3 separate regions of the Homo sapiens genome follow, and regions 2 and 3 are each linked to region 1. The links come from fine-mapping of genetic effects on gene expression. A gene starts in region 1. Each other region holds a variant in brackets. All regions are shown on one strand. Distances are from middle to middle.

Region 1 (8,172 bases):
AGGTCAGGAGTTCAAGACCAGCCTGGCCAACATGGTGAAACACAGTCTCTACTAAATACACAAAAATTAGCCAGGCATGGTGGCGCGCGCCTGTAATCCCAGCTACTAGAGAGGCTGAGGCAGGAGAATCGCTTGAGCCTGGGAGGTGGAGGTTGCGGTGAACCAAGATTGCGCCACTGCACTCCAGCCTGGGCGACAGAGCGAGACCCTTTCTCAAAAAAAAAAAAATATTTTTTTGAGAAACATGGTCTCGCTCTCTTGCCCAGGTTTTTTTTGAGACAGGGTCTCGCTCTGTCGCCCAGACTGGAGTGCAGTGGTACAATCATGGCTCACTGCAGCCTTGAACTCCCGGGCTCGAGTGATCTGCCTACCTCAGCCTGCTGAGTATTGGGACTACAGGTGTGCACCACCTTGCCTGGCTAATTTTTGTATTTTTTGTACAGACAGGGTCTCACTGTGTTGCCCAGGCTGGTCTCAAAGTCCTAGGCTCAAGGGATCCTCCTGCCTCCGTCTCCCAAAGTGCTGGGACTATAGTCATGAGCCACTGCACCTGGCCTAAAATTTATTTTTTAAATTGGCAAATCAAAATTGTATGCATTTACAGTGTGCAGCGCGATGTCTGATATGTGTGTTCGTGGGGAATGGCTGAGTCAAACCCATTAACGTCTCCATTATCTCCCATACTTAGCATTTCTTTGCGGGGAGGACATGTAAAATGTACTCTCTTGGCAATTTTCAAGCATAGAATACATTGTTATTTATAACAGTCACCATGTTGTACAATAGGTTTTTTTTTTTTTTTTTTCTGAATAAGTTCCTTGGGCATGAGTGAGGGTCCTGTTTGTTCTTAGCCTGGGAATGGGAACGCTCACTCATTCCTTCATTCAGCAGGCGTTTCTAGAGCCCAGCTAAGTGTCCAACCCGGGGGACGGAGAGGGGACACGTCCCGGTCCTGGGCTGGGCAGACTCTCAGAAGGCACATTGGCTTTTGCTGTGGGGGCATCCAAAGGATGTGCACCCTTTGATTCCTAAGAATTTGTCCCTCCCTAGGGGCCAGGCACGGTGGCCCACGCCTGTAATCTTAGCACTTTGGGAGGCCAAGGTGGGCGGATTACCTGAGCTCAGGAGTTCGAGACCGGCCTGGTCAACAGGGCGAACTCCATCTCTACTAAAAAATACAAAAATTAGCCAGGCGTGGTGGCGGGCGCCTGCAGTCCCAGCTACTCGGGAGGCTGAGGTGGGAGGATGGCTTAAATCCGGGAAGCGGAGGCTGCAGTGAGCACTGATTGTGCCACCGGACTGCAGCCTGGGTCACAGAGTGAGATCCTGCCTAAAAAAAAAGAAAGCCTGGGAAAAAGTATGGGTGATTATAGTAGTGTTTGCCTTTAAACCTTTCTAGATTTTCCACGTTTTTATTTTTTTTAATTTTTAATTATTATTTTTTTTATTGAGACGGAGTCTTGCTCTGTTGCCCAGGCTGGGGTGCAGTGGCGCAATCTCAACTCACTGCAACCTCCGCCTCCCGGGTTCAAGTGATTCTCCTGCCTCAGCCTCCTGAGTAGCTGGGATTATAGGCGCGCACCACCATGCCCGGCTAATTTTTGTATTTTTAGTAGAGACAGAGTTTCCCCATGTTGGCCAGGCTGGTCTCAAACTCTTGACCTCGGGTGATCCACCCGCCTTGGCCTCCCACAATGCTGGGATTACAGGTGTGAGACACCACGCCTGACCGATTTTCCATGTTTTCTGTGAGGATACAACTCAACTACAGGGTCTTTGAGACAGGGTCAGCCGAGCCTGGGAGCTGGGCGCACAGGGGCTCCTGGGGAAGGCCTTCTGGAGGAGGTGCATGCGTGGCGGTGGGCGAGCAGAGGCTACGTGCACCTGGCCGCTTGGGGTGCAGCTCAGGGAGTTGGGGGAGGTTGGAGGCAGGAACAGACTCTTATCAGTCACACGCTCCCCGATGGTCCCTGGGAGGGACGGCATGACCAGCCATCAGGAGACCTCTCCCGGGGCTGGCGCTGCCTGGCTGGGTGACCTTGACAAGCCACTGTCCTCTCCGGCCTCGGTCCTCCCATGTATAAAGTGAGGGGGATCCAGCCACTCTGTGTCCTGCCTGGGACTCCTCACTCAAGGGTGACTCTGGCGGTGGGCTCAGGGGTGGGACAGGGCCTGAACTCCAGCCCAAGGGGTCTCCATGAGCCCTGTCTTGACTGCGAGGCCCCATGAAGCTAAAGCCACACTACAGCCGCGCACACACAGCCGGTTCCCAGGATTACAGCGGAAAGACGGCCTCCTCCGGGAAGCCCTCTCTGATGGCCTTACAGGAAGGGCCTGCCTCGGCACTGCCTCCGCGGCTCTGCACACTCCAGGCCACACTCATACACGTCTACCGTGGGTTCTGGTTATCTGTTCACAGCTCACTGCAACCTTGAACTGGGCTCAAGCGATCCTCCCATCTCAGCCTCCCAAGTAGCTGGGACTAACAGTGCAGGCCCCCATGCCCGGCTAATAAGCAGTTAATAAACTGTCACTGAGATGCTCCCTCGGAGACTTGTGGCCACCGGTGTCCCTGCCTGCCAGTCTCCTGATGGCCCCCTGCCCCAGCTCACCTACAGATCCATTCCCTACACCAGTGCCCCGTGCACCCGGGAAGCAGCTCTGCCCTCAGCCCAGCCCTCCACAGCCTTCCTGGGCTCCCAGCACCCCCTGAAAGCCACCTCACCGCACTGGGGTCAAGGGCTCTGGACAAATCCCTGCAGCCGTGTGGCCCTCGCGGGCCTACACACGCACTCCCACCCCACCCCTGCGCACACCGCCCTGGCCTCTCTGTGTATCTGAGTCTCTCAGGAGGGTCCTGTCCCTGACTCCCTGCCCTCTCTGCCCAGCCCCTGCCCTCGGGCACCACTTCCTCCTTGCCCCTGCCTGGCCCTTCCTTGCCACAGCGCCTGGCCGCTTCTCTACCTGGGGGCTGTTCTGTTCCCACCTGGGGACTGCTCCGGGTCGGGGGCTGTGTGTGGCTTCGGGCTTGGGGAAGTTGCTTCTCGCCCATCTCCTGCACAGGAGTCCCGGTCCCTCTAACAAGCTGTGACCTTTGCTCCCCAGCTCCCTACAGAGCAAAGTCCAACCCCCTGCCAACCTCCCACCAGCCTTCTCCAGGGTGTCACGCCTCTGGAAGGAGAAGGCCCCTTCCCCTTTCCAGCTATGTGAGCCTGGGAAAGACCTCTGGTCTCTCTGAGACTCAGTCTTCTTGTCTGTGAAATGGGACCACACTGCAGACCTCAGTGAGCCGAGTGACGAGCCTGTGAAATAGCCAGGGGTGCCCGGTGGGCGCTCTGCCCTCAGCCTGGCAGAGATCTCCCCATTTTCAGGCCCAGCTCCCACATGCCACATCCTGGGGAAGCTCATCCCCTCCCCCGTGCCCTGGCCGATCCCACTTCTGACAGCGTCTATAGCAGCGGCACCCAGGGGGACCGGGCTGAGCCACGGCCACGTCCTGTGGAGACCAAGGTCCTGAAGGAGGCTCGGGGGCGGAAGGGCTTACCTGGTGGCAGGTGAGCACCAGGGCAGTCCACACGAAGATCCCCGAGACGCCTCGGGCCAGTGCGGAGGTGAGGAAGAGCCAGGGGGCCCCCTGGGAGCTGTTCCCCATGTGGTCCATCTGCGGCCCAGCTGGCACAGCCGGTGGGGGGCTGGGCTGCGGCCAGTTCGCTGACACCAGGGGGACGCCGGCTGTCTCCAGGATCCCTGAGACATTACTCATCTGCAGAGGGAGGGAGGACACACACCGGGAGGAGTGAGGGCAAAGGTACTGGCTCCCGGCAGCAGGAAGCAGCGGGGGAGGGAGGAGACAGTGAGACGGGAGCTGAGGCTGAGCCACCCACCAGGCCGCACCCCCCACACGGACACCAGCGCCAGGCCCGGCTCCCTCCCTGCTCCGAGCTCAGCCATCGAAGCTCACCCATCAACCACCTGCGACCTGAGGGTCCCACCTCAATTCCCCCTTGTAAAACCAGCTTCCAACTCCGAGTCTCAGGCTTGCAGGGAGCCTGCTTCTTAGGGGACAAAGACCGTCTTCCAGTGGGGCAGAAGAGGGGGAACCCCTGCCGCCCTGCCTGCCCGGGAGGGCTGGGGAGCGGGCGCAGACCAGCACTGCCTGCCCCGGCAGGAGGGGGTGTGCAGCCACCCTCATGGGAGGAGCCGGCCCTCACTGGCTCTGGGACCTGTCCACCCACCTGGGAGCCCGGCTTTGCTGGGGTTCTTGGCAGCCCTGGGTGCCTGTTCCATCTCCCACTAACCTGCTGGGGCCCTGAGTCCACCCTCTCCCACACTCGCAGCCCAGTCCAGCCTCCTCCTCTCCCTCTGGTCTGCGGTCACAGGGCCCAGCTCTACCTTTGCTGGCAGGAAGCACCTGGCCCAGTCCAGGGAGGCCTGGCCTCCAGGGAAGCCTAGCTGGTCATTCTCATGGCCACGTGGCCCCAACTGGAGGCCCCACTGTGGGTGCGGCAAGGCCAGGATCTGAAGGGCTGTGCCAGGCTGGGGCGGGGCGGCCAGTGCCTCACGTCCCCAGTGGCCCACCTGGGCCCCAGGCTGCAGGCCCGTCCCCTCCTGTCCCCTCCCACGGCTGACACCCTATCCTCCCGGTTGTTTGCTGGGTGGCAGCTGGCTCCCAGGAACCTGCTGGCCGCCTGGCGCCCTCACCTGCCTATGCCAGACGGCCAGGCAGCTGCCACCTGGTGGGGACACGTGGGAGAGGTCTGCGGCAGGCCAAGGAGGGCCGGGCTGCAGGAGGAGGGGTGGAGAGCTAATGGTACAGGGTTTCTCTGGGGGGTGACAGGAGTCCTGAAATGAGGTAGAGGCGGCAGGCACACAGCACTGTGGATATACTTACCGCCACCGAATCGTTCACTTAAACCTGGGTAAATTGATGTTATGTGAATTTCATCTGAATTAAAAAAAAAATCCACGCCCCAAGAGATGAGTTGAAAACATTTGTTTTCTGGGCCGGGCGTGGTGGCTCACGCCTGTCATCCCCACACTTTGGGAGGCCAAGGTGGGTGGATCACTTGAGGTCAGGAGTTCGAGACCAGCCTGGCCAACATGGTGAAACGCCGTCTCTACGAAATACGCAAAAATTAGCTAGGTGTGGCAGCGTGCACCTGTAATTCCAGATACTCAAGAGGCTGAGACAGGAGAATCGCTTGAACTCAGAAGGCGGAGGTTGCAGTAAGCTGAGATCACACCACTGCACTCCAGCCTGGGGACAGAGGGAGACTCTGTGTCCAAAAAAAAAAAAAAAAAAAAAAGGAAATATTTCTGGTTTTTGTGGATCAAGGCAGGAGAGGGGGAGTGACAGCCCAGTCCCTGGACCCTTTGGGGTCTGGCAAGGGGTTGCGGGGCCCTGAGGGTCCCTGTCACCCCCATGCAGAGGCCCCTGTGGAGAAAAAACTCACTCACCCCGGCTCCTGGGAGAGGGATGTGGGCCCTCAGCCCACCTCTTGTCCTGTTCTGGTTACGCTTGGGCTCATGCCGCTGGGGCCACCATTACCAAGTCCCGCTCCATGCCCGCAACGGATCCACACACTCCTTGTCCTTCATATCTCCTACCCTCCCACAGCCCTGAGCAACAGGGCTCAAGGGGTTGAGGCTGGAATGACTGGAGCCACTGTTCCCCTTTTATTTTTAATTAATTTATTTTTTGAGACGGAGCCTCGCTCTGTCGCCAGGCTGGAGTACAATGGCGCGATCTCGGCTCACTGCAACCTCCGCCTCCTGGGTTCAAGTGATTCTCCTGCCTCAGCCTCCCGAGTAGCTGGGATTACAGGCGCCCACCACCACACCTAGCTAATTTTTGTATTTTTAGTAAAGACGGGGTTTCACCACGTTGGCCAGGCTGGGCTTGAACTCCTGACCTCAGGTGATCTGCCCGCCTCAGCCTCCCAAAGTGCTGGGATTACAGGTTTGAGCCACCACGTCCGGCCTGTTCCCCTTTTAGAGATGGGAACGAGAGGCGCATCAACGCGTCCAGCATCCTTGAGGGGTCCGTGAGGGGCCCGGGCTGAGGCCCATCCTTCCCTGGGACACCCTGCCTGCTTTTCCCAACTCCTCCACTGACACTGTCCCTCCAGGGAGGCTCCCAGGTGGGGAACAAGCTCAGGAAGTCGTGCCCAGCTCTCAGGCCCGCCTTGCCTAACCTCCCCATCAGCGCCCACCCGGGCCCGGGCCCAGAGCCACAGCATGCACACCCTGGCTGGGCCCTCCTGGAGCCTGCCTGCTCCCCAGGCAGGGACCTTCTGGACCAACCGACCCTGCTCCCGGGTGACTCTGTCCTGCAGCCTCAGGCGTCACCTCTGGAGAGACCATCCCCGCTGTCCCATCACCCTCCTCACTGTGTGTGTGACTCCCTGTCCACCTGTCTGTGTTTGCTGCTGGTCCTCCCTCTGCAGGAGCTGCCAGAGCCTAGAGCTGTGCCCTGTCCATGCTCGGGGCACAGGGCTTGCGGGGTGGGGGCTGTCCTGCTGAGGCGGTGACCCTGTGGGCTAAGGTCTCCCTTTGGCCAGGCAGGGGTGCTGGAAGGCGGTCCCCAACTTCCATCCAGCTGCATTCCCACTGCAGCCACAGGTACTCCTGCCGGCCTCCCACCCGGCCTGCAGAGCCCCAGGCAGTCGGCTCAGCGCGTGTGGATGTCGCCCTCTGGCTGTGTCGGGATCACCGTCACGGACAACTATGAAGTGACGATGGCTGGGGGCCCGTTTGAAGGGTGAAGACTTTGGTGCCTGGGCATGCGCAGAGCTGGAAGGGACCGGGAATCCCCTCATCCAACTCGCTCATGCTACAGGCAGGGAAACTGAGGCCCCAGCCCCTGCTTGATTTGCGTCCAGCCCCCAGCACAGGATGAAGCCTCGGGCCCCTCCCTGGGCTGACGGTGGGAATGGCTGTGCAGACAGCAGGAGGCACTGTGGCTAGATGTCAGCAGGACCGTTTTGGCTGGAGCCAGCAGAGCCAGGCTTCTGGGAGGGCTCTGGCTTCGGGCAGGCTCAGGGCTTGGGCCCCGGACACAGACTGAGGGACCTCCAAAGCTCTGTCTTCCGCCAGAGGCAGATCCTCTGTGGAAAAAGGTGGGGTTTTCTCACAGGGCCAGCTGGGCACTGGACAGGGAGGCCTGCTGATCTCCTCAGCCCACAGCTGTCCCGGCTGAGCCAGATGCGCCAGCTCGGGAACCGTGGACCAAGTGTACTGGTCTGGGGATGTCAGGAGCAGGGCCTGGTCCCCAGGGAGGGGCAGTCGGGAGGTTGACCGCTCTGCCACCTGCTCACAGGGCTCGCCGGCTGATCGAGGCCTCACCCGGTGCTGGTGTCACAGCCTCTGCGCCCGGTCACAGGAGGCGGCAGGGCCGGCTGGGCCTGATTTTTCTGGCGGGGGCGGGACACTGACCAAGCCCATTGCAGGACAGACCTGTCTGCCCAGATCCAGGCGACGGGGCCCTCTGACCATTGTTCACTGCGTCCAGGTGCCCAGAGCTGTGGGGAGGCTGAGAAGCCGCCCAGCCAGTCCCACACCCTGGCCCTGGCACAGCCACCTCCTCCTGCTCTCATGAGAAACCCGGCTGAGGGCCCATGAGCTGTTGCCTGGTTCCAGGCCGGCTGCCCTGCTAGTGCCCACCCCGACCCCCTGCCTGCCCGTCTCTCTGCAGATGCGGACAGGCATGGTGTACCCCCCTGCCTGCCTCCTTCACTGCTGGGTGGAACTCGGGGCGCCCAGGAGCCGCCTCCTCAGGGCTGGCTCATTTGATGTCCCAGGCTGAGCTGCACACTAGGGGGATGAGGTGACCGGTGGGCACCCATCTCAGACACCCGGCTTCCCAGGTCCCGCGGCCCTCCCCTGGGGGCCCTGGCCAGCAGTTCACCAAGGCAGCAGCCCCGGGTGTGAGCAGGGGGTGACAGGGATGGGGCTCCACATCCTCCCGGCTCTGCTTCTGGGATTCCCCCGGCTCCTGTCCACGGGCACGGCCTCCTGAGAGCCGCGTGGGGCGGGCAGGCAGCATGGCCTCCTGGTGACCCACATGCCCCCTCCTCACTGGGGCCGGGGAGCAGCCCCCACAGCCAGGAGGAGCAGGCCCTGGACCACATGCCACAAGCTGGGGCCTGGCTCTGGCTGTGTGAGGTGTCTGTG
Region 2 (8,172 bases), 120 kb before region 1:
AGATGAGATGTTCTCGATATTGCAGTTTCAATTGGATTATATCCTAACGTGCTTTATAAAGTGTCAGGCCGGCTGCCGACGAAGGGGTGTGTGTGATTATCTTTATTAATAATCCGGTGGGCTGGTGTTTTTTCTATCCGTCTTCATCAGTGTTTCCAGCCCACCTGGGAGACCTCGTTAGCGCAGAATCCAAAACCGTGACCTGAGACGGCAGGGCTGTGATCGTCACGGCAGGCCGGCCCGGGGGGAAACACCTAGGTGGACCGACAGACAGACAGATGGGGTGTCAGGACCCATCACAGCCAGCCAGACAAAGGCCTCTGCCGGGAGGGTCCCCGGGGAGCAGGGCCCTGGGAGTCCAAGCTCCAGACCAGTAGGAGCCAGGGCAGCTTCAGGGTGAGGGAGGTTCACCCAGCAGGAGGCCCGCAGACAGGAGCAGGGCCCGGACGTATGATCTGGCTGTGCCCCTCCTGGCGGGGTCTGCAGGGCCGAGGGGGCCACCCAGAGCTCATGTCCACCTCCCACCTGATGCCCCAGCACCCGGGACCCCAGAATTCCCTGAGCGCACACCCTGAAACCCCCTTCGAGTCCTCCTGAGGCCTTCCCAGCCCTGGCGTGGAGGCTCCCAGGCCCGAGGTGGGAGGCTCCTCCCTCCCAAAGCTAAACAGGGCTTCCGGGGAGGAGAAGTGGGGGGAGCTTCGGGCTCAACTCTCTCCCGGGCCCCACAAAGGTGAGGGTGGGCCTGGCAGGGAATGGCCGCTGGGGAGCAAGCCTGCATGGCAGCCGTCAGCCTCCTGCGTCTCAGGCTCCAGAGGAGACCCCTTCAGCCCCCCTGCGTCTTGGGCTCCAGAGGAGGCCCCTTCTCCATGATTCACCCGAGAGAAGCAAGGCATGGCTGTCCCTGGGGTCCCCGTGAGGCCTTGGAAGGACGTGGAGGGGCAGGAAGAAGCCAGAAGACACAGGAAAAGCTCCTCCTTCCCAGACACCCTCACAGCGGCCGCTCGAGGTTGGAAGGAGGCCAGGCTGCAGAGGTGCAGGCCACAGACATTTCTACCTGGGGGTAACTGTGGGCTTCCCAGAGCCCCCCCACCCAGGGAGCCCCCCAACTGGGGCCGTGCAGCAGAGCCACATGGGGGGCCCTCACTGGGAGGAGTCTGAGCTCTGCTCCCTGCCTCCTCCCAGATGGAGGCCAAGGCACAAGAACCAGGCCCTGCCCACTCCTGCCATGGGGCCCTGGGCACTCCGTGACTCAGTTTCCCCTCCTGTCACAGGGACAGGGTGTTGCCCACGACTCCCTAGTTTCTGTGAGGGGCTTCATGGCACAGGGCGTGGCCATGCCCCCATCGGAGACCCCTCCAACTCTTGCCCCAGCCAGGAGCAGCCCCTCTGTCCCCACCCCAAGCTGGGCCCACCTTGGCAGGCTCAGGGACTGGGAAGGTCCCTCCCCTCTCTGGCCTCAACACCCTCCTCTGAAAACGGGTCTGGGGGTAGCTGAGGTGCTGTGGGAAGGGCCAAGCCAGTTCCTGTGCATCGGGGCGGGGCTGGAGCAGGAGGCCTGGGCAGGGCAGATGGGGCGGCAGGGGTGAGGGGGCCCCACCATGGAAGCGGCTGAGGTCTGCTCTGCATGTCAATTCCCCGCTCCCTGCGGGGCAGACCAGCTATGACATTCCCAGGCCCCGGCCGGGACCCGCAGCTTACACAGATCAGGGTGGGGGGCGGTCTTTGGGCCCGGCCGGGCTGTGCTCATCACTCGGGGCCAGGGCCAGGCTCCCTCTCTGGGCCCCAGGGAACAGGGCAGCCCCCCGTTGTGGGATGCCCGGAAAATCCCCCAAGAGACGTTGTGCTCTCTTCCCGAGTCCCTCCCTGTCCCTCCCCTGCTCAGCCCAAGTCTGGGTAGGGCAGGAGGTGCCTGGTGTGTGCCCGCTGGCAGTGGCTCCACTGCCCACCCCACGAGACCTGATTCAATCCTCCCACCCCGGGCAGGGCAGGGGCAGCCCCGGGGGTCCCACAAGTACGAAACCAGTCAGGCTCAAGCAGGTCTGTCTCCCTGGACCAGTGGACCAGGTAGCAACCCTGGGCCAGGTGCTAGCCCCCTTGACAGGTGAGAAGACTGAGTCCTGGAGTGGCGTTGAGCCCTGGTGTCATTCATTCATTCAACAAATCCTCATCAGGCTCCTGCCGTGTGTCAGGCACTGTTCTAGGCGCTGAGGATGGCGTGGCAGAAAGACGGAGGAGCCGGGACCTCCGGAGGATCCGTCACAGAGAGGAAGCCCAAACAAGCATCTAAACATAGGTGCGTTCCGAGTGTTGGCAATAAACCAGGGTGGCCGTGTGCTCACGCCTGTCATCCCAGCAGTTTGGGAGGCCAAGGCAGGAGGATTGCTTGAGGCCAGGAGTTCAACACCAGCCTGGGCAACATGGCAAAACCGTGTCTCCACAAAAAAAAACTTTAAAAATTAGCCGGGCGTGGTGGCGTGCGCCGGGTGTCCCAGCTACTCGGGAGGCTGAAGTGGGAGGATCACTTGAGCCCAGGAGGTCAAGGCTGCAGGGAGCCGTGATCACGCCACTGCACCCCAGTCTGGGCAACAGAGTGAGACCCTGTCTCTAAAAAGAAAGAAAGAAATCAGGGTGAGGGGCAGGAGCTTCTCCGAAAAGGGCAGTTAAGCAGAGATAGCAGGATGCCAGCTATGTGGAGTGCAGGGGCCCCAGGAGCAGGACCAGCAAATGCAAACGCCCGTGGCCAAGGCCCGGCAGCCGGAGCGGAGGGGGCAAGGGTGACAGAGGTGAGGCTGGAAGAACTCCTGGGAATCAGCCCAAGCCTGCCCTGGCTTCGCAAGGGGTGAACACAAGTCCCCACCAGCTGCCCCCACCCTCCCACAGACCAGTGCCCTGTAATGGCTGGGCTGGCCCCCTGTGCCCGGCCTGGAGGGGCCACTCAAGTCCAAGTCCAAATTCCAAGCATCCCAGTGGAGACTCTGCTTGGTCCAGCCTTGCCTCCCTCCTTGTCCCTCCTGACGCAGCCACACGGGGCCAGTGTCAGCTCCCCACCCCAGAGCTCACCAGAAGGACCACACCGGTCCCTGAGCCCAGAACACTCCTCAATCCAGCCCTTGCTCCCCAGACCTGAGGCTGTAGTATTGAGGCCAGTGCAGATACAGGGGCCGACGGGGATGTGGGTCAGGGAACAGCTCTTCCCCTTCTCTGCGGCCCCACCCACCCCCATATCCATTCAGGAAGACTGGCTGTTCCTAGCCATGTCTGTAGAGAGAAAGCCTCTGATGTGCATGGACTGCCTGCCACGTGCACAGGCACGAGACGCTGGCCCGGAGTCTCTGGCAGGTGTGGGTGACGTCCAGCCAGGCCACTGGGGAACTGCGTGCCTCTGCCCTCCCTGAAAGTTGTGAGGGGTCATCTAGGGTGGGTGGGGCCCGGGCTGAAACTCTTCCACATTGGGGTTGGGGCAGCCTCTGCAGGAGCCGGGCGGCGGCGCAGCCAGCCCCACCTGTGCCCGAGTGGCTGCTCAGGGGTTCCCACGCCCATCCTCACAGCCTCCTGCAGCACAGGCAGCACAGGCATCACAGGGCCTGGCCAACGCCCATGGCCCCAGGGCTGCGTTCCTGCCTGTCTCTCCATGATGGTGTCACCGGGGTCTGCAGGTGCTGGGCCCCTGGTGGACAGCAAGGACATCCCGCAGGGCTGGCTTAGTGCCTGGCAGACCTGACCACTTGTTGCAGGGGCTCTGATCACTGAGCACCAACTGTGTGCCCAGCCTGGAGCGCACCTGGCACCCCAGGGCTGCTTCTGAGGTCCCCAGATGCAGGGGGCTGATGGTGGGGGCGGAAGCTTCCTGGCCCTGCGGTGGGACACCCCCAGGTGTGAGTCCACAGCAGGACCGAGCCCCAGGTGCCCACGCCCCTAACTTGCTGGACAACACTCCCTTCCCGTTCTGGTCTCAAAAATGCTACGCAGCCCCCTGCCCTGGCCCCGCCTCGCTTGCTGTGTGACGTGGGAGAGCCGTAGCCCTCTCCCAGCCTCAGTTTCCCTGTCTGAAAAACGGAGCTATTCCAGGCTCCCGGCTGCCCCTCTCCACTAAGTGGCTCTCTGCCTCCCCCTGGTGGTGAAGAGGCCACACTGCCGCGGGTCAGGCCTTACGACGTGAGCACGGGGCTGAGATCCCAGGGGGACCCACGGGGCTGAGATCCCAGGGGGACCCACAGGCTCAGCTCCGGGACCCGGTCCAGACCGCCCTCCACGGCGTCATGCTCCTAACACAGCAGAGGCCCTGGGGCTTCTGCTCAGAACCACCCCAGGCACCCAGTGCCTGAGGAACGAGGCCACCTCGCTGCACCTGGAAGGTCCCTGCCGGCCCAGGTCCTGACAGAGCCCCTCTCTCTCCATCACCCGCTCCGCCTCACCTGACCCTGACCCCGGCCCCGCCCCAACCTGCCCCACCACACATCTTCAAGCTCCCAAGATCACTGCCTATGCTGTTCCTGCAATAGGGCACACCCTGCCCATCCACCGAGAGACCCCTACTCCTCGACACCCAGGTGAGACCCCCCCCTGCAGAAGTCTCCTGGGGGCTCCAGGGTCCCACTGCTGCCAGCCACTGCCTCCCAGT[C/A]CTCGGAGGGCACAGGGAGTTTCCACCAACACACTCGGTCCCAGTGGCCTGACTCCAAGAGAGGCCTCAGGGCCAGGCAAAGCACGACCCCGTTCCCCACTCATTGCTGTGTGCAGGTGACCCATGGCCTCATCTGGGGGAGCCCCTTTCCCTCCACGGGGGCCCCGAGTGGCTGGCAGAAGCAGGGGGTACAGAGGGAGGCAGCGGGGGTCTCGCTGTCAGCAGAGGGCAAGAGAGCACCTCCGTGCTCCTCCACCCTCATCACTGCCCGAGGCACACCGGTGGGCCCCTCTCATCCTCACACGGCCCCCAGGCAGCCTATGTCACCAAAGGCTCAGAAAGGGCAGTGCCCTAGCCCGAGGCCAAAGAGCTGCCAGGAGCAGAGCTGTGACTGCAGAGGCTGTGCTCCATCCGTGCACCCCAGCCCACCCTCTCTTCCATGCCCCACACCCAGCTCACGTTCCAGGAGTCTTGAGACCCTCAAAGGCACAGTGAAGGCCATGGAATGCCACAGGCCTGCCCAGCACAAGCTCCCCAGGGCCCACGCGCACACGGCAGGGGCTCCAGGCTCTGAACCTGCTCTGGCCCTGCTGGGACCCGTGGGGTCCCGACCCCCCCAGCCAGCAGGTGGAGAACACTGGTGCTTTGCCATGGCTGAGGGTTCCCCAGGACCGCCGCAGAGGCTCCTACAGCAGCTGAAACAGCGCAGCAACAAGCAGCTGAGGCCCGCCCCTCCCCGCACAGATGGGCAAACTGAGGCTTACAGGGACGCTGCACTCCTGACTCAGCGCTCCTCCCACGACATCCACTCTCAGTGGGGGTCAGAAAGGATGGGGCACCCCACATCCCGCCCTGGCCACCAGGAAGTCTCCCTGACCAGGGGCCACTGCTTACAATCCCCCATCCCAGCCCCAGTCCTGGGAGAACGAGGTCACAGCTCTCAGGCCACGGATACATGGCGACCCAGCACCCAAAGTCTCCAGCCTGTACCGACGTCTCCTCTGAGGCTCCCACCAGCCCATCTGTGCCAGGAAGCTATGAAAGGGCCCACCTTCGAGGGCCAGGCCCTGAGAGGGTCGGCTCCTGCCCGAGGCCACAGAGCACGTCCGTCCTGCAGGCAAGAGCTGGGAGGCAGGCGAGACCCCAGGCAGGTGCGGGGCCGCCCAGGGGCACCGAGGCAAACACGGAGGCACGTAGGAGTCCGGGGCCATGTGGTCGGTTTCTTTATTGAGACCACAGACGGTAGCGCAGGTCCCTGCTGTCCACATGCCCCTTGTAGGGACAGGAGGCCCTTCCCGAGTCCAAGTCCGAATGCCGGGTCCGGGCCGAGCCCACGGCCCCGAGTACAAGTCCGGGTTCCGGGTCCGGGCCAAGCCCATGGCCCCGAGTCCAAGTCCGGATGCCAGGTCCGGGCCGAGCCCACGGCCCTACTGGCTACTACTGGGAGGGGCTGCTTTTGCTTTTTGGTGACCAGATCTTGGACAAGCGGAACTTGGACTTCTTCCTCTGGAGGCCTAGGGGACAGGTGGACAGTGAGGCCGTGCTCAACGCCGCAGCCGCACAGCCGTGGCCCACACAAGTCCCCCTGCCAGAAACATCCTTCCCTTCCACTGGCCACAATCCGCCCTGGGCCTCCGAGCCTGCAGGAAGCCCTGTGCCCTCCCACGTGAGAACCTGCCCCGACTGGGTGCCCCGGAGGGCTGGTCCCCACCATGACCACACGGTCACCAGCTGCCCCTGGCTCTCTTAGGGGCGGGAGGGAGCTCTCACCCTCAGGGTGAACCTGCCTGTCCTGTCACCAAGGCTGAGGGGGGGACCCGATACCCGCCCCCCCCCCACCCCCAGCTGGAGGCCCGGTCCACCCAGCCAGCCAGCCCAGCACTCAGCATCCCCGGCCCACCCAGCCAGCCAGCCCAGCCCTCAGCATCCCCGGCCCAGTCACCCAGCTTCTCAATCATGTCCCGCAGCATCTGATCCTCCTCTTGTTCCCTGAAACGGGACCAGATGGCCATGAGCGACAATGGCAATGGCAAGGTGCCCTGGAGGGGCCTCCGGACAGTCTCCAGCAGTGGCACCCCAGCCCTGAGTCCCGCCTGGACCCATGCCACCTGCCCCTTCCTGCTGACAGGCCACACCTTGGAACCCTGCCCCCACCAATGCCAAGTCCCTGCCCTCTTCCAGAGCCAGCCCCTCAACAGTGACATGGTACAGGAGGGCCCTGGGCCGACCACACAGGTGACCTGGGACAGAAGGGCCTGGGCCGACCACACCAGTGACCTGGACAGGAGGACCTGGACAGGAGGGCCTGGGCCGACCACACCGGTGACCTGGGACAGGAGGGCCTGGGCCGACCACACAGGTGATGTGGGACAGGAGGGCCTGGGCCGACCACACCAGTGACCTGGGACAGAAGGGCCTCGGCCGACCCATGCCAAGGCCCCGTCACGCTCCCAGAGGGTCTCATAGAGGTGGACTTCAGGTGCCGACCCAGAATGCCATGTGCTGGACCCCTCATGAGACGAGACAGGAAAGCTGTCGGGGACAGTCACACAGTCCGTGCAGGAGCCAGGAGACGCACGTGGCCTTGGAAGTTCAAGTTAAAAACTAAGACTTTGGCCGGGCACGGTGGCTCACACCTGTAATCCCAGCACTTTGGGAGGCTGAGGCGGGCGGATCACGAGGTCAGATCGAGACCATCCTGGCTAACATGGGGAAACCCCGTCTCTACTAAAAATCTAAAAAAATTAGCCGGGTGTGGTGGCGGGCGCCTGTAGTCCCAGCTACTTGGGAAGCTGAGGCAGGAGAATGGCATGAACCCTGGAGGCAGAGCTTGCAGTGAGCCGAGATTGCGGCCACTGCACTCCAGCCTGGGCGACAGAGCAAGACTCTGTCTCAAAAAAAAAAATACAAACAACAAAACAAAACAAACAAAAAAAACTAAGACTTTACGGCCAGTTACGGTGGCTCATGCCTGTAATTCCAGCACTTTGGGAGGCCAAGGAGGGCAGATCACCTGAGGTCAGGAGTTCAAGACCAGCCTAGCCAACATGGTGAAACCCCGTCTCTACCAAAAATACAAAAAATTAGCCGGGCATGGTGGTGCGAGCTTGCTACTCAGGAGGCTGAGGCAGGAGAATCGCTTGAACTCGGCAGACGGAGGTTGCAGTGAGCCAAGATCGCACCACTACACTCCAGCCTGGGCAACAGGAGGGAAACTTCGTCTCAAAAAAAACAAAAACAAAAAATTAGCCGGGTGTGGTAGTGTGCGCCTGTAATCCCAGCTACTCGAGAAGCTGAGGCAAGAGAATCATTTGAACCTGGAAGGGACAGGTTGCAGTGAGCCAAGATCGCACCACTGCACTCCAGCCTGGTGACAGAGCAAGACTCTGTCTCAAAAAAAAAAAAAAAAAAGACTTCAAAAAGTCCCCGATGGCCACATGTGGCCCCTGGCTACTGTACCAGTCAGCATAGACAATAACCGCCTGGTCAGAAAGTTCTACGGGGCTGGCTGACCCTGAGGGCCGGGAGCATGGACCAGGCGACCTGGCCTG
Region 3 (8,172 bases), 340 kb after region 1:
AACAGCTGGGCTCTGGGCCCCAGGCTGGTGGTGCCCTGAAGGCTGCCCACCCACAGGGCTGTGAAGGCAGCTGGGAGGTGGAGCTGCCTCCACTCTCAAGACACACAGGACCTGGGCCTTCCTGGCCCCTCTCTATGGCAAGAATGGGGAATCATCTCCTGGGAGGGGCATGTATCCGTGGGAGGGTCTCACTCCTGGACCACACGCTCTGTCTGGTGTGGGTATGGTGGGCTCGGATCCCCGGGAGGGTCTCACCCCAGGACCACGTGTTCTGGTGTGGGTACTGTTGGTACGTCCCTGACAAGTCTCATATTGAAATGGGATCCCCAATGTTGGAAGTGTGGCCTATGGGGAGGAGGTGTCTGCGTCATGGGGTCACAGGCCTCACCCACAGCCTGGTACTGCCTTTGAGGGAATTAGTGAGGTCTCTCTCTGTTTCCATGAGAGCTGGTTGTTAGAAGGAGCCTGGCACCCCACCCCTTTGGCCTCCTGCCATGTGATCTCTGCCCAAGTGGGCGGTTCCTCTTCATCTCCCGCCATGAGTGGACGCAGCCTGAGACCCTCACCAGGTGCACACGTGCCCACTTTTGAACTTAGCAGCCACCAGAATTGTGAGCCAAATACACTCCTTTTTCTCTAGAAACCACCCAGTCTCAGATATTCCTTTATAGCAACATAACAGGCAAAGACACCAGGCAAGCCCATCCTGCCAGTTTCCACGGAGGCCCAGGCTGTGCCGGCCACTACAGGTATGTCGGGGAGAGGAGGAGGGAGCCCCGAAACCAAGGCCACCTGTGCTGTTTTATCAGCTCTCCATCGCTCAGCACCTGAGAAGGGGTGCTCACGGGCCCCACTTTGTCCTTGGGGAGCTGAGGCCAGAAGTCATTTCCCAGGGCCAACCTGCTGTGGTAGAGGAGTCTGGACCCTGTCTGACGCCCATGTTCTCATTTTTCCTGGGGAGGTGCACAGCCTTCCTGTCTGGGATTTCCACAGTCCATGCAACAGTGAGAATGCGGGACCCCAGCAAGATCAGACAGACGCCAGCAGCGGGCTCTGTGCGGGACCTCGGCGGGATCAGACAGACGCCAGAAAGCGGGCTCTGCGCCACCTCCCCTTCCCCTGCTGAGGTCCGGCAGGGGCAGCAAGGATGGGCAGAGGGGAAAAAAGGGTGCACAGAAGCGACACCCCGGGCCAGCACAAGGACGAGGGGTGCGGGGCTATTTCTTCTTCCCAGGAAGGCTGCTATACAAAAACATTTTTCTATAGCTGTAGGATGTGCTTGTGCTTTAAGCTAAGTGTTATACAAAACAAATTTTAATAGGCTGGGTGCGGTGGCTCACGCCTGTAATCCCAGCACTTTAGGAGGCCGAGGAGGGAGGATCACCAGGTCAGGAGATTGAGACCATCCTGGCCAACATGGTGAAACCCCGTCTCTACTAAAAGTACAAAAAAATTAGCTGGGTGTGGTGGCGCACCCCTGTAATGCCAGGTACTCAGGAGGCTGAGGGAGGAGAATCGCTTGAACCAGGGAGGCAGAGGTTGCAGTGAGCCGAAATCGCGCCACTGCACTCCAGCCTGGTGACAGAACAAGACTCTGTCTCAAATAAATAAATAAAATTAAAAAGTTTATAAACTCAAAAAGTTACAACAAACTTTATTCTTATTATTATTAGAGATGGGATCTCACTCTGTCACCCAGGCTAGAGTGCGGTGGCGCGATCATAGTTTTCACCGCAGCCTCTAACTCCTGGGGCTCAAGTAATTCTCCCGCCTCAGCCTCTGGAGTAGCTGGGACGATAAGCAGGCGCCACCACGCCTGGCTAAGTTTTAAATATTTTGTAGACACAGGGTCTTGCTATGTTGCCAAGGCTGGTTTTGAACTCCTGGGCTCAAGCGATCCCCCCACTTCAGCCTCCCCAAATGTTAGGATTATAGGCACAGGCCACTGTGCCCAGCCATTCATTTATTATTGAAGAAAAGAACAGTATTTTTAATAGTTGAGTGTAGCCTAAGTGGTACGGCATTTATAGTCTCCAGTTGTGCACACTCATGTCCTAGGCCTTCACACTCACTCACCCTCATTCACCAGCTCGCCCAGAGCACCCGCCAGCCCTGCGAGCTCCGTTCACGGTGAGCACCCTACGCAGGTGCACCGTCTTCCACCCTTCATACATCATGTTTATGGCACCTTTTCCATATTTAAACACGTACAGACACGCAGATGCTTAGCACTGCGCCACGGTGGTCTACTGCATTCAGCACAGTCACGCACTGCACACTTTTGCAGCTTGGCAGCAGCCGGCTAAACCATGCGGCCCAAGGGTGCGGGAGGCTGCACGGCCCAGGCTCGTACAAGTCATTCTAGGAAGTTCCCGCAAAGACAACACTGCCCACCAGCACGTTCCTCAGCATGCATCCCTGTCATCTGGCAAAGCGAGACCGTACTAGACTTACACATATACACACAGGTGAGTGCTGAGTATCCCTTATTGGAAACGCTTGGGACCAAGTGTCTGGGATTTCCAGATTTTCAGGTTGTCAGAATATCTGTATTACGTGCTTACTGGTTGAGTAAGCATCTCATGCAAATATTCATCCCTAATCTGAAAATCTGGTATCGGAAACGCTCCATTAAGCATTTCCTTTGAGTGACAGACCCACAATAAAAAAAGCTGTGGATTTTGGAACATTCCCGACTTCAGGTTTTCGAATCGGGGAGGCTGGACCTGTATACCTTTCCCCCTCATCCATATGACAAACCCGGTAGGTCGACATCGCCACATGTTTGTGCAGTTCCGGAATCTGTGCCGTCCACGCCTCTGGCCCTGACGCCCACCCTGCAGGCCTCTGAGCCGGGGAAGGCCCTGGACAGCAAGGAATGAGGAGCCTGCTGGAACCAGTGTGTCTCCCAGATCCCAGAAGCTCACGGTTTTGCCCCAAACTGCATTTGCTCTGTGTCCCCGGCCTGGTCACTCCACTTCTTCTTACCACTGATTTTCTCCCTCTCGTAACAGAAGGCTTCCTTCCCTGGGTTTTGAGAAGAGGGGAAAAGGGAGGTGGGGAAAATTCCGTGAGAACCACTGGGAGGAGTGCAGCCGGGATGGAGAGACCAGGAGCTGAGCCTCCCCGCTCCAGGCCCAGGCAGAGTATGGCCTTCCCAGGAAGCTCTAGGGACTCTGGAATCTCTATCCCCTCTCAGGAGGGAGAGGAGCAGAGGCAGCAGGTTCCCGCTGGGAAGAGCTGGAGCTGAGATTTGCCTGCCTTTCCCCCAAACGGCAGCCCAGGCAGCCAGCTCCCTCCACCCACGCGGCAACAAGAGGTTTGGTCCCGGCTGGGATGGGAAGTCCTGGCTGGGATGGGAAGTCCTGGCTGGGATGGGAAGCAGAGTGGCGGGGGACTGTGCGGCAAACCCTCAATTATCCCAGCACACATCTGTGGAACCCGCTTGACTGGAAACGGCTTCGGCTATTTCTAACTCTGTCTGCAGCCCCCTTTCTGCCTGAAGAATCATTTGGGGGAAAATCTGATAAAATAAATGACATGGCCAGGAGGCTGGGGTTTGGCGAGATCTTTCAGGAGCACGGGAGCCACGTATGCCAGCCCCCAGGTGGAGTGGGTGGGGCAGGGGGCCTGTCTCCCTGCTCTCCCTGCCCTCCCACACTGGCCTCTGCCCTCCGTGGCCCTATCTCAGGAGGGTAGCTCAGGGAAGACCCTCCTGGGCACACCTAGTGATGCTCAGCCCCCTGAGGATGCCTTTCTGAAGCCAGGAGGCCAGGGTCAGGGCCCCCAGGGAGCACCCAGACCACATTCCTCATGACAGATGGGGAAACTGAGTCTCACAGGAGTGCAGTGGCCTGGCCAAGGCTGCACACCAGGGTCAGGAGCTGCCCGGGACAAGGTGACTCCACAGTGTCTCTTATCTCTCCTCTGGACAGTGGAGACCAGGGCCACCGCTGCATGGCCCCAAGGAGTCAGTGACCATCTGCAGGCAGAGGTGCCAACATGAGCCCTGGCCCTACAGGTTGGCTGTTGTCTGTTCACTGTTT[G/A]TCTCTTCCCTTTTGCTCCACTGAAACCTGTTTTTCTGTCTGTCTGGCAGAGCCCTAGACTGCCCTCTCCATAAGCCAGGCCCTGAGCTGGGGGCGTGGAGCTGCTGCGAACAGTACAAGTGCCTCTCCTGTCACCAAGCTTGGTGTCCTGGATACAAAGGAGGCAGGAATGACAGGTGGATGGGGCAGGACTGATGCTGATCTCCTGGTCAGAGCTCCTGCCAGAAGACTTGGCAGCTCTAGCGCTGTCTTCTTGGAACCCAAGGGGGAGGATTTCTCAGGAGGCCAACGGCCTCACCCAGTGAAGGGCAGCTCGGAGGAGGACTTGGGAAGAGTCGGCTTACAGGGAGCCTTTGAAAGCTCCCTAAATGTTGCAGGCCCTCCAGAAGGTCTGCAGGGACCAGGACACACAGGGCCGGCAGAGCTAGTCACAGCTCTGGGAGAAGCACGGGTGCACCGTGGGCTGGAGCTGAACCAGCCAACAGGGATCCCGGTGCAACATGACCCCTCCCCAGCTCCACAGGTGGCACTTATGAGACTTGCCTCTTGCAGCCTCCGAAGTGAGCCACAGTTACTTCTACTCCACAGGTGAGGAGACTGAAACTTGGGGAGGTGAGGCTGCATGCCCAGTGTCAGCCCTCATGAACATGCTCTAAAGGCCCATATCCAGCAGGCGATCCCTCCACATCAACCAGATGGGGCGCAGGAAGGTCTGGGAGGCCCCAGCCCTCCAAAGAGGGGAGGGGGCGAGCGGGGTGCTAGGCACAGCTGCTAGCAGGGCACATCAGCTGGGCAGGACAGAGTCTGGAGGAGGAGTGGGAGAGGGAGGAGGAAGAGCAGGAGTAGAGGGTGGGGGTTGGGTGAGGCTGGGGGAAAGAGGCTGTGAAAAGAAGCCTAGGGAGAAATGGAGCAAGAAGCATCTTTAAGAACCAGGCACCCAGCAGTGGGGGAGAAACACAGGAGGGGCACACTTAGGCCCCCTGGGGACCCTCAAGGGACAACGAACCCAACAGGATAAAACCTCCGGCAGACTCGCCTGTCAGGAAAAACACAAGGTGGCACGTGTCCTAGGAGGGAAGCCAGCGGAAGAAGGGTCCCACATCTGGGGAACCCAGGAGGGCTTCCTGGAGAAGGTGTCTACAAGCGAGCTGGGCCCAGGTGAAGAGGATGGAGCAGGTGGGCCTTGATGCTGGGGTTCCAGGGAAAACCGCAGACACAAGTTGGCAGCTTCTTCCTGCGGGGACTTCACTGCTCAGAAATGAAACCGATGGACCAAGGTGGGGTCTTGGCAACCATGATGGATGTGCCAGGAACATGGCCCCACTTACTCCTGTGGGTCAGACGTAACTGTACCTGCTTTACAGATGAGGCAGAGGCCCAGCCAGCACCCCCCTGGCAACAGCTGCACTTGGGCACCAGCCCACAAGCTCACCTAGAGTCAGCCCCCTGCCTGGGTTGCCCAGAGCTCCCCATGCCAGGCCCACCCCGCAGCTCTCAGCCCCGCCTGCAAACATCAACTTGTAAAGCCCTTCCATACTTTACTTAATCTCCCTGATCCTGTGAGCTTCAAGCATGAAAACACAGTGCATGTCACACATGGGGAAAGTGGGTAAGCTAAAAGCAACCTCGTTCCCTGACACTGTCCACCTGAGCCAGCCCCCGGAACACGGCCCAGAGCAGGCATGGTGGGTGGCCGGAAGGGTGGGGAGCGGGGCCTCTGCGGGCACCAGGCCTTGCTGGTGGAGCACTGGGCCAGTGGACCGTCTGTCCTTCCGGAGGCGGCTGCCTCAGCTCCATGGCTTCTGACCCAGCACATCCAGCCCTCAGGACCTGCAAAGTCACATTCACACGGGCCTTGGGCCAGGACAGGCCGTGGTCCAGAAGGTCAGGTCAGGCCAGGCCTGCCACTGGAAAGAAGGGACAGCAAGGGCTGGAGGATGGGCAGTGAGGGGGCGGCCTGGGGAGGCGCCAAGGCTCCAGATCACAAGAGTCTAGGAAGGCGGGCAGGATGCCTGGCAAGAGCTGCGGGGCCCAGGCCAGACCCCTGCAGGAACCACGGCTCCTCAGGGCGAGCCCGGCCTCCCGTACGCTGTGTGTCCTTTAGGCCTGGGGCGAGCAGGGCTGGGGAGCTGGCCAGCTCCTGGGCTCTCTGTCCGCCTGCCTCCTCCTCCTGGGGCCCCCTTCCTGCCTCTCCCTGACCTCAGGAGCCTGGGGGCTGAGAGGGCTCCAAGGCGGAAAGGAGGGCAGGGGTTCCTGCCCAGGCCATGGGGGCTGAAAGTCCGGCCACTGGCAAGCTGAGGCCAGCCCAAGCCTTCTGGTCTCAACATCCTGCCATGGCTGGGATCCTGGGCGGGCGGATGAGGGCCGGGGGAGCTGAGATGCTGGCTCGAGCAGGAAGAGCGGCAGGGCCCATGCTCGAGGGTATGACGGGGATGGACCTGGTGTCCAGCAAACCTGAGGACATTGGGCAGGGCTGCGCTTCAGAAGCCCATGCAGGGCTTACAGTGGTCAAGATGCTACTTGCTGACGGTGTTTTTAAAAAGTGACACAGGAGCACACACAATGGAACCCCAGGATCCCGAGTTCCCAGGTGTAAATGAACATGCCTAGGCATGTGCCTACGTATGAAACACCGAAAGGAAACACGGCGAAGCAGGACAGCGGCCACCTTTCGCGGGAAGATGACGAGTGGCTTGCTTCCCTCTTTTGGATTTTCGACACTCTCAACAGAAAACACTGTGGAGGGTGCCCCAAGGTTCCGCTGCAGTTAGTCTTCCTAAGATTCGCTTCAACTACAGCACACGCAGGGATCCGGGGAAAACGCTGCCTCTTAATTTGTAAATGTTGATGTAACGAGTGATATGTTAAGTGATAACTGTTCATGGTACACCTTTATTAATACCTAATCATTTTAGAAACCTATGGAATTCGTATAATGCATTAAACACCTCTGTGAATTATTCAAAGTATACAGAATTATACAAAAGCGAAGAAGTACATTTCTGATAGCTTAAAGACTTGGTGTGTTTTTATTATTCAAAGGTTTGAGAGTTTCAAGAGTGTAGAAATGGATGACTGTGATCTGAGAAGCAGGAAATCCACAAGGAACGCAGAGCAAGCCCGGCACGGTGCCCCCGTGCAGCGCAGGCTGTGAAGACGGGCGGGTTGTGCAGAAGGAGGAGGAAGAGCCGGGCTAAGGCTGAATCAGACAGGCAGCGGCTCACCGCTGTGAGACGCTGACGGACATGCGTAGGCCGCACTGGGTACAGCTTTTATACAAATCAAAGTTGGTTCTCGGTTCCATAAAGACACGCAGAGGCTGCAGACTGCAGGCAGTTTAGACGCCCGTTCCAGACCACAGCAGTCCCAGGTGGGGCCCGTCTCTGCCTGTCCTCATCTCCCACAGCCACCGCCCCCTCCACCCTTCCTGAAGCAGCCACATGCCAAGACGGGGCCACGAGGTCATGCCGGGGCCACAATGCCACACCAGGCCGACGGCACCATCCTCACAAACCGGAGGTTAGCTCACCGGGGCAGTGATGAACAAGCCCCTGTTGCCCTGGGTCTCCAGCTGCTGGAGGTCCAAGTGGGGCCACCTCCACCCTGAGGGTCAACACATAACACCCCAATTTCTGCTGTTGGACCCCGCTCGCCCGAGGACTCTTCATGTCCACAACGGTGGACCCAGTCTGGCTTCACCAGCAAACCAGAAGAGCGCCTGCTGGCTCGCAGGACGCGAGTGTAGAGATGCGGCTGGCTCTCCTTTCCTCTTCTAGTCTGTCTACCTTGCCCTGTGCTGGCTTCTGGGACTGCGCTGTCCCACTGCGCAGCCTGGCATCTTGGAAGGCGTCCCCTGCCCCGGCCCCACACGGACTTCAGTCCTCCCCAGGCACCACTGCCTCTGGACACACTGACACACACGCCTACGGCCGCAGCCCTCATGGAACGAAGCCCAAGTTGCGACAGACAGAGGCTGAGAAAGTCAGGGGGACAGCCTAGGGTCTTCTGCACCCAGGAGGTCCAGGGCTGCAAAGCCACATAGGGTTGGCCCAAGGCTGAGAAGCCTCAGGGGGTGACGAGGACGGGCCAGTGCACCTCCTTCCCGCCCAGCCCTCCACACCATCCC

Which allele goes with the higher level. Positions count from the first base shown, and alleles are read on the strand shown. Sizes are in standard deviations (SD) of each study's normalised expression. Not every link is listed here.
For the expression in transverse colon of the gene that starts at base 4,484 in region 1, G is the low allele of the variant in region 3 and A is the other (moderate effect, 0.47 SD a copy in GTEx).

Evidence for each region.
Region 2: its variant is fine-mapped to the expression of TMEM184A in pancreas (GTEx, PIP above 0.99).
Region 3: its variant is fine-mapped to the expression of TMEM184A in transverse colon (GTEx, PIP above 0.99).

What each region holds. Positions count from the first base shown.
Region 1 is chr7:1,551,722-1,559,893 of GRCh38, forward strand. It overlaps TMEM184A (transmembrane protein 184A), which reads right to left and starts at 4,484. Exons shown (of 9, transcript NM_001097620.2): 1 at 4,393-4,484; 2 at 3,545-3,763. The coding sequence starts at 3,763. RefSeq lists silencers at 3,010-3,192, 4,560-4,629, 4,670-4,759 and enhancers at 3,302-4,102, 3,672-3,966, 4,103-4,902, 8,127-8,172.
Region 2 is chr7:1,428,538-1,436,709 of GRCh38, forward strand. MICALL2 (MICAL like 2) reads right to left here. Exons shown (of 17, transcript NM_182924.4): 16 at 6,564-6,610; 17 at 5,822-6,135. The coding sequence ends at 6,059. Among named protein-coding and RNA genes, the nearest start is that of MICALL2, 27 kb to the right of the region's middle. RefSeq lists an enhancer at 6-561. The variant C/A (reference allele first, on the strand shown) is at 4,622.
Region 3 is chr7:1,889,924-1,898,095 of GRCh38, forward strand. The region is part of intron 18 of MAD1L1 (mitotic arrest deficient 1 like 1); the gene reads right to left. Among named protein-coding and RNA genes, the nearest start is that of MIR4655, 50 kb to the left of the region's middle. RefSeq lists enhancers at 451-951, 952-1,452. The variant G/A (reference allele first, on the strand shown) is at 4,047.